Homo sapiens: one gene and its partner. The protein of the gene in region 1 purifies or fractionates together with the protein of each later gene. This does not show direct contact. Each region holds a gene or a part of one and is shown on either strand. Other genes may lie near its edges.

The links.
Region 2: the proteins of ZNF44 (region 1) and POGK purify together in Homo sapiens (affinity purification with mass spectrometry; one large-scale study listed by BioGRID and IntAct). This does not show direct contact.

The regions. Positions count from the first base shown.
Region 1 is NC_000019.10:12,271,021-12,274,634, reverse strand, and holds the end of ZNF44 (zinc finger protein 44), read left to right. Parts: intron 1-569; exon of another isoform or gene 570-571; coding exon 572-2,228; 3' UTR 2,229-2,827; downstream 2,828-3,614. UniProt on the Homo sapiens protein: May be involved in transcriptional regulation.
Region 2 is NC_000001.11:166,849,401-166,853,226, forward strand, and holds part of POGK (pogo transposable element with KRAB domain), read left to right. Parts: coding exon 1-1,009; 3' UTR 1,010-1,023; exon of another isoform or gene 1,024-3,184; 3' UTR 3,185-3,826.

The DNA of each region.
Region 1 (3,614 bases):
TGGCACTGGTGCACTCTAACCTAAGTGACAGAGCAAGACCCTGTCTTAAAAAAAAAAAAAAGGCCAGGCGCAGTGGCTTATGCCTGTAATCCCAGCACTTTGGGAGGCCGAGGTGGGTGGATCCACGAGGTCAGGAGATCGAGACCAACCTGGCCAACATGGTGAAACCCCATCTCTACTAAAAATACACAAAAATTAGCTGGGTGTGGTGGTGCATGCCTGTAGTCCCAGCTACTTGGGAGGCTGAGGCAGGAGAATCACTTGAACCTGGGAGGCGGAGGTTGCAGCAAGCCGAGACAGCACCAGCTGCACTCCAGCCTGATGACAGAGGGAGACTCCATCTCAAAAAAAAAAAAAAAAAAAAAAAAGAATTAAGAATCCCCATGTGCATATCATTGTCTTGAAAATAGCTGGGATTGAGTTATCTTGCACAACATTCAGTCCATTCACATTGAAGCAGGACATGAAGCTTATAGCTTGCCTGATAATGTTAAAAATGTAAATCTAATACCTGTTGATAAATATAAATTCAATAATAAACCTTTAGTAATGTACTTTTCATTTTTTACAGGTGTGATGTGGTAGAGAGATTTGGTAAAAGTAAAGATGGTAGTCAGTGTGGAGAAACCTTAAGCCAGATTCGAAATAGTATTGTAAACAAGAACACTCCCGCCAGAGTAGATGCATGTGGAAGCAGTGTGAATGGAGAAGTCATAATGGGTCATTCATCCCTGAATTGCTACATCAGAGTTGATACTGGACACAAACACCGGGAGTGTCATGAATATGCAGAGAAGTCATATACACATAAGCAGTGTGGGAAAGGCTTAAGTTATCGCCACTCCTTTCAAACATGTGAAAGGCCTCACACTGGAAAGAAACCCTATGATTGTAAGGAATGTGGAAAAACCTTCAGTTCTCCTGGAAACCTTCGAAGACATATGGTAGTAAAAGGTGGAGATGGACCTTATAAATGTGAATTGTGTGGGAAAGCCTTTTTTTGGCCCAGTTTATTACGTATGCATGAAAGAACTCACACTGGAGAGAAACCATATGAATGTAAGCAGTGTTCTAAAGCCTTCCCTGTTTACAGTTCCTATCTAAGACATGAAAAAATACACACTGGGGAGAAACCGTATGAATGTAAGCAGTGTTCTAAAGCCTTCCCTGATTACAGTTCATATCTAAGACATGAAAGAACTCACACTGGAGAGAAACCCTACAAATGTAAACAATGTGGGAAAGCCTTCAGTGTTTCCGGTTCCCTTCGAGTACATGAAAGAATTCACACTGGAGAGAAACCCTATACATGTAAACAGTGTGGGAAAGCGTTTTGTCATCTTGGAAGCTTTCAAAGACACATGATAATGCACAGTGGAGATGGACCTCATAAATGTAAGATATGTGGGAAAGGCTTTGATTTTCCTGGTTCAGCACGAATTCATGAAGGAACTCACACTCTAGAGAAACCCTATGAATGTAAGCAATGTGGGAAATTGTTATCTCATCGCTCAAGCTTTCGAAGACACATGATGGCACACACTGGAGATGGCCCTCATAAATGCACAGTATGTGGGAAAGCCTTTGATTCTCCTAGTGTATTTCAAAGACATGAAAGGACTCACACTGGAGAGAAACCCTATGAATGCAAGCAATGTGGGAAAGCCTTCCGTACTTCCAGTTCCCTTCGAAAACATGAAACAACACACACTGGAGAGCAACCCTATAAATGTAAATGTGGAAAAGCTTTTAGTGATTTATTTTCCTTTCAAAGTCATGAAACAACACACAGTGAAGAGGAGCCTTATGAATGTAAGGAGTGTGGGAAAGCATTTAGTTCTTTTAAATACTTTTGTCGCCATGAAAGGACTCACAGTGAAGAAAAATCTTATGAGTGTCAAATTTGTGGCAAAGCCTTCAGTCGTTTCAGTTACTTAAAAACTCATGAAAGGACTCACACGGCAGAGAAGCCATATGAATGTAAGCAATGCAGGAAAGCATTCTTTTGGCCCTCTTTCCTTCTAAGACATGAAAGGACTCACACTGGAGAAAGACCCTATGAATGTAAACACTGTGGTAAAGCCTTCAGTCGTTCCAGTTTCTGTCGAGAACATGAAAGAACTCACACTGGAGAGAAGCCCTATGAATGTAAGGAATGTGGGAAAGCCTTCAGTTCTCTCAGTTCCTTTAATAGACATAAAAGGACACACTGGAAGGATATTCTATAAGTGTATGGAATGTGGGAAAGCATTCATTGGTTTTATCACATTCAGATACTTGAAAGAAATAAATCCTGTGAATGTAAACGTGGTAAAGCCTTAAGAAGTTTCCAGGCTGGGCGCAGCGGCTCACACCTGTAATCCCAGCACTTTGAGAGGCCGAGGAGGGCAGATCACGAGGCCAGGAGATCGAGACCAGCCTGGCTAACATGGGAAACCCTGTCTCTACTAAAAATACGGAAAAAAAAAAAAATAGCCAGGCATAGTTGCTCACACCTGTAGTCCTAGCTACTCAGGAGGCTGAGGCAGGAGAATCCCTTGAACCCGGGAGGTGGAGGTTGCAGTGAGCCGAGATTGCACTACTGCACTCCAGCTTGGGTGCTAGAGCGAGACTCCATCTCAAAAAAAAAAAAAAAAGTTTCCATTTCTTTCAAATAGAGTTGCTGCCTGCTATATGCAAGAAGATTGGTTCCAGTACACCCTGAGTATACCTAAATCCACAGATGCCAGCTCTTTTATAAAATGGAATATTCGCATGTACCTACCCACATTCTCCTGTATACTCTATAAATGTCTAGATTAATTAAAATATCTCATGCATTGTAAAAGCTGTGTACATAGTTGTATTGTTTAGGGAATCATAAGAAAAAAAATCTATATGTGTTCAGTACAGACCCAACCATTGCAGGCCTATCTACATCGTATATATCACCTATAATGTTACAGTTTCTTGTTTCAATACTCAGATTACTTTTGTCTAATGACCTGAAAGAATGTGTTAACACCAACCACAATTCTGGTTCTTCTCTCTTGATAACCCAAGTATTACGATGGTTATGACAATGATGATTGCTGTATGGTGCCTAATGTGATGTGTAGAGGTGACTAGATGTGTGGCATCATAGATAAACAGTGAGACCTCAGGCTAACTTGAATCTTGACAGGACATCAAGACCTTCATCTATGTTGGAAGACCCAGGTTCTGATTGAAGATGTTGACTCTTTGCAGGAGGCTAATACTAATGTCAGCATCTGTTCAGCTTGAGGGCTGAAGATGTTTGTGTTGAAGGGTATGTCTTCATATTTGCAGATATTTAGTTAGAAGCATTGTTTTAGGAAGCTAGTTCTTTTTCTTTGAATCCCTAAAAAAACCTTAGTGTTCATTAGCATATTTTCCCTTATATGACACAGAAGCTTTTTTCAATCAAAGGATGTTAGCTGAGGTTGATTATCTTTAACACTTGCAACTTGCAGAGGCTATAGATGCCCCAAGATCTGCTGCAAATTTTTCGCGTGTCCAAATCAATGGCACTGCTCCTCTTCTTAATCTTCTGCATCATCAGCAGCATCATCATCATCATCATCATCATCATCATCACTTGTAGAGGATTTCAG
Region 2 (3,826 bases), on another chromosome or scaffold:
GGCCAAAGGGGACCCCATCACCCGGGAGGCGATGCAGCTGAAAGCTCTCGAAATCGCCCAGGAAATGAACATTCCAGAGAAAGGGTTCAAGGCAAGCTTGGGTTGGTGTCGAAGAATGATGAGAAGGTATGACCTGTCTCTGAGGCATAAAGTGCCCGTGCCCCAGCACCTGCCGGAAGACCTGACTGAGAAACTCGTCACTTACCAGCGCAGTGTCCTGGCTCTGCGCAGGGCGCATGACTATGAGGTAGCTCAGATGGGGAATGCAGATGAGACGCCCATTTGTTTAGAGGTGCCATCACGGGTAACTGTTGATAACCAGGGCGAAAAGCCTGTCTTGGTCAAGACACCAGGCAGGGAAAAACTGAAAATCACAGCAATGCTTGGTGTCTTGGCTGATGGGAGGAAGTTACCACCGTACATCATTTTGAGGGGAACATATATCCCCCCGGGGAAGTTTCCCAGTGGGATGGAAATTCGCTGCCACCGGTATGGGTGGATGACTGAAGACTTGATGCAGGACTGGTTGGAAGTGGTGTGGAGACGGAGGACAGGAGCAGTGCCCAAGCAGCGAGGGATGCTGATCTTGAATGGCTTCCGGGGCCATGCCACAGATTCCGTGAAGAACTCCATGGAAAGCATGAACACTGACATGGTGATCATCCCAGGGGGTCTGACCTCACAGCTTCAGGTGCTGGATGTCGTGGTCTACAAGCCACTGAATGACAGTGTGCGGGCCCAGTACTCCAACTGGCTTCTGGCTGGGAACCTGGCGCTGAGCCCAACCGGGAATGCTAAGAAGCCACCCCTGGGCCTCTTTCTGGAGTGGGTCATGGTCGCGTGGAATAGCATCTCAAGTGAGTCCATCGTCCAAGGGTTCAAGAAGTGCCATATCTCCAGCAACTTGGAGGAGGAAGACGATGTCCTGTGGGAAATCGAGAGTGAGTTGCCAGGAGGAGGAGAACCACCAAAAGATTGTGACACCGAAAGCATGGCTGAGAGCAACTGAAGGGAAAGGGAAAGGTAACCACTCAGGAGTAGATACTCAGTGCCTTTGCTGACATGTCTGTGTTCTACAAACACCTTCTCTCCATTATTTTTCTGTTTTTAAGTTCCCTTAGAGCCTACAGTGCAGTAGTGTAGATCAGGGGTCCCCAACCCCCAGGTCACGGACCATACTGGTCCATGGCCTGTCAGGAACTGGGCTGCACAGCAGGAGGTGAGCGGCAGGTGAGCAAGCATTACCACCTGAGCTCCGCCCGCTGTCACAGCAGCGGCATTAGATTCTCATAGGAGCACAAACCCTGTTGTGAACTGCACATGTGAGGGATCTAGGTTGCAGGCTCCTCAATGCCTGAGGATCTGAGGCGGAACAGTTTCATCCCAAAGCCATCCTACCACCCACTACCCCGCACTTCCTGGGTCCCTGCAAAAATTGTCTTCCATGAAACCAGTCCCTGGTGCCAGAAAAGTTGGGGACTGCTGGTATAGATAACAGACCATTAGCATTTTCTCCTTTATATGAAACATTTATTATTTGATTTATTTGTGTCTATTTTGCTCTGTGGCTTGGACCCAGAAACACTTGTATAATAGGTGAAATGAACAAAGAATGAGCTGCCAGAACATCTGAGAGCTGTAAAGTTAAAATTATTTGGACCCAAAGAAGCATAGTCTGACGTTGTTCAGTTCACACAAAATTTTGTCTGAAAAGCCAACTTTTTTCTTTCCCTTTTAAATTATGCTGAACATTTAGGGCCAGTATGTGTAACTGACATGCTGGGACAGTTGTACTCACTTTTGCTGGCCTGTAGGACTGTGACATAGGGAGAACACTAAGTGTGTCCTCCGGGCCTCGGGTCTCAGTCCTGGAGCTATCTACAGTATGTTACCAGCGAGTAAGAATAATAGCTTCTACTTGCTTTTCCCTACAGAGTTCAGGAGTTTTAAAACGTCATCTTAGTCTCATTATGACCTTCACATGGGCTATGACAATAATTTCCTGTAGTCAGCAGATGTCTGAAGGAAGATATTTTTTAACTGAATCTTTACACCAAAAAAAGAAAATAAAACGGTGCGTATCTAGGACTCTAGTGAGGGCTGAGGACAATAGGCCTGGAATTTTCTGGGTTGAGTACACAAGAAGAACAGCTTTCAAAGGAAAGTAGGAATGGAGGCCTAACTGAGACAACACTAGTGAAATGACCCCACCCACCTACACCTCCAGAGAGGAGGAGGATGAGCATGTACAGCAGGGGGGACACCCACAAAGAACAAACAATTCATTTACCTGTTCGTTCTCATCTCCCTAATTATAAATTAAATTGATCCTCCAGACAGTGTTTTATATGAAGGAAGAAGCCACCTTTTTTACAGAGGACCTGAAACCGTCAACCATCTTCACACATTCTTTTTCTTTCTTTTAAAGTATAATTAGGTATTTCCATCTTCCTTGCTTTTTTCTCCAAATGAAATGCTAATGGGAGCCTTATTTTACCCACTTCAGCTATATAAGTCCATCTGTGTTTCAAAGAGTGACTTATGTCTCCTGCCTTGCTTCCAAATTAAATTGTACTCATATTGCTGAATCCCATTGTAATTCTGGGATCCCTGGAATTACAATGGAGCAAGAAGTTCTTACTATTACATTCAAAATCACCAAAATTGCTTTTTTTTCCCCCTTGGGTCCTCCTTGCTTTGAGAAACCCCATGAATCCAGCCTCCCTTTTCTGCTGACCCTTATATTGCCTGCATTGGATATCAAACTGAATTACATTGAGTTTCCATCTTTTCTTCATTTACCTTTTGCTTTTCCCTCTCCTTGTTAGATAACATTTTTGTGCACTTTTAATTTCCTAAGCTCCTTACCACCTCAGGGACATGATTAAAAACTTCCAGAAGAGGAAAGGAGAAAAAGCTATGCTAAGTTGCATTTATGAATGTTGGCCTGTAATATTGGTCATGAGCTTTTGCTCTTCTAGTCTGCCACAATTCTCTCTGCAGCTCCTGAGGAAGTGATGGGAGTAGACAGATTCACAGTGAACAAGAGATTTGGGAGACCAAGTGGGCATAAAACTACGTCTTGGCCTCTATTTGGAAATCTGAATGATGGAATTATTATGTTTGTTAAAAGTTATACCAAAAAGCCAAGGGTTAATTCATTTAGGTTCTCTCTGTTTTCCAGCAAATGGAACTCTGATTTAAACAGCTGGGGATGAAATTCCTCAAGATGATTATTCCTGAAAGTGTGGATGCGCTGGATGCGCAGGGAACATCAGGAAAAGGCCACGGGGCTCTGAACAGCCCCGGTCCAGACAGCAGCCTGTACATCCATCCCAGGACACAGCCCAGCCCCTCCCCACACCATACAAGGTATCAGAAAAGTCTAGGACCTATCATTTCATCAGAGACATGATCAGAAAAGAAACTGCTTCTGCCCCATTTCTTGTTTTGGAGATTACTCCATCTGTCCATCAAAAGAAACCTGTAAATATGAAAGAACAAAGGTTATTTCCTGGAGAAAAGACAATTTATTCAACACCAACGAGGGACTCATCATATGGGCACAACTCTGGTGTCCTTCTATGGAGAAAACCTCAAGTAAAGTTTTATTCTGCCTTTGAAAATGCTTCCAAAAGTAGACCCTGTCCCCACACAGGTCAAGACTACAGAGAAGGCTTTGTAGAAATGTGTCACCTATGTACACCTGCTACTTACACATTTCCTCTTTTGGAAAAATGAGATACTTAGAATAACAAGAAAATTAAGACATACTGGCCTGGTGCCAGCAGATGGCTTTTCTATAGACAAACTAGGTTAGTGTGGA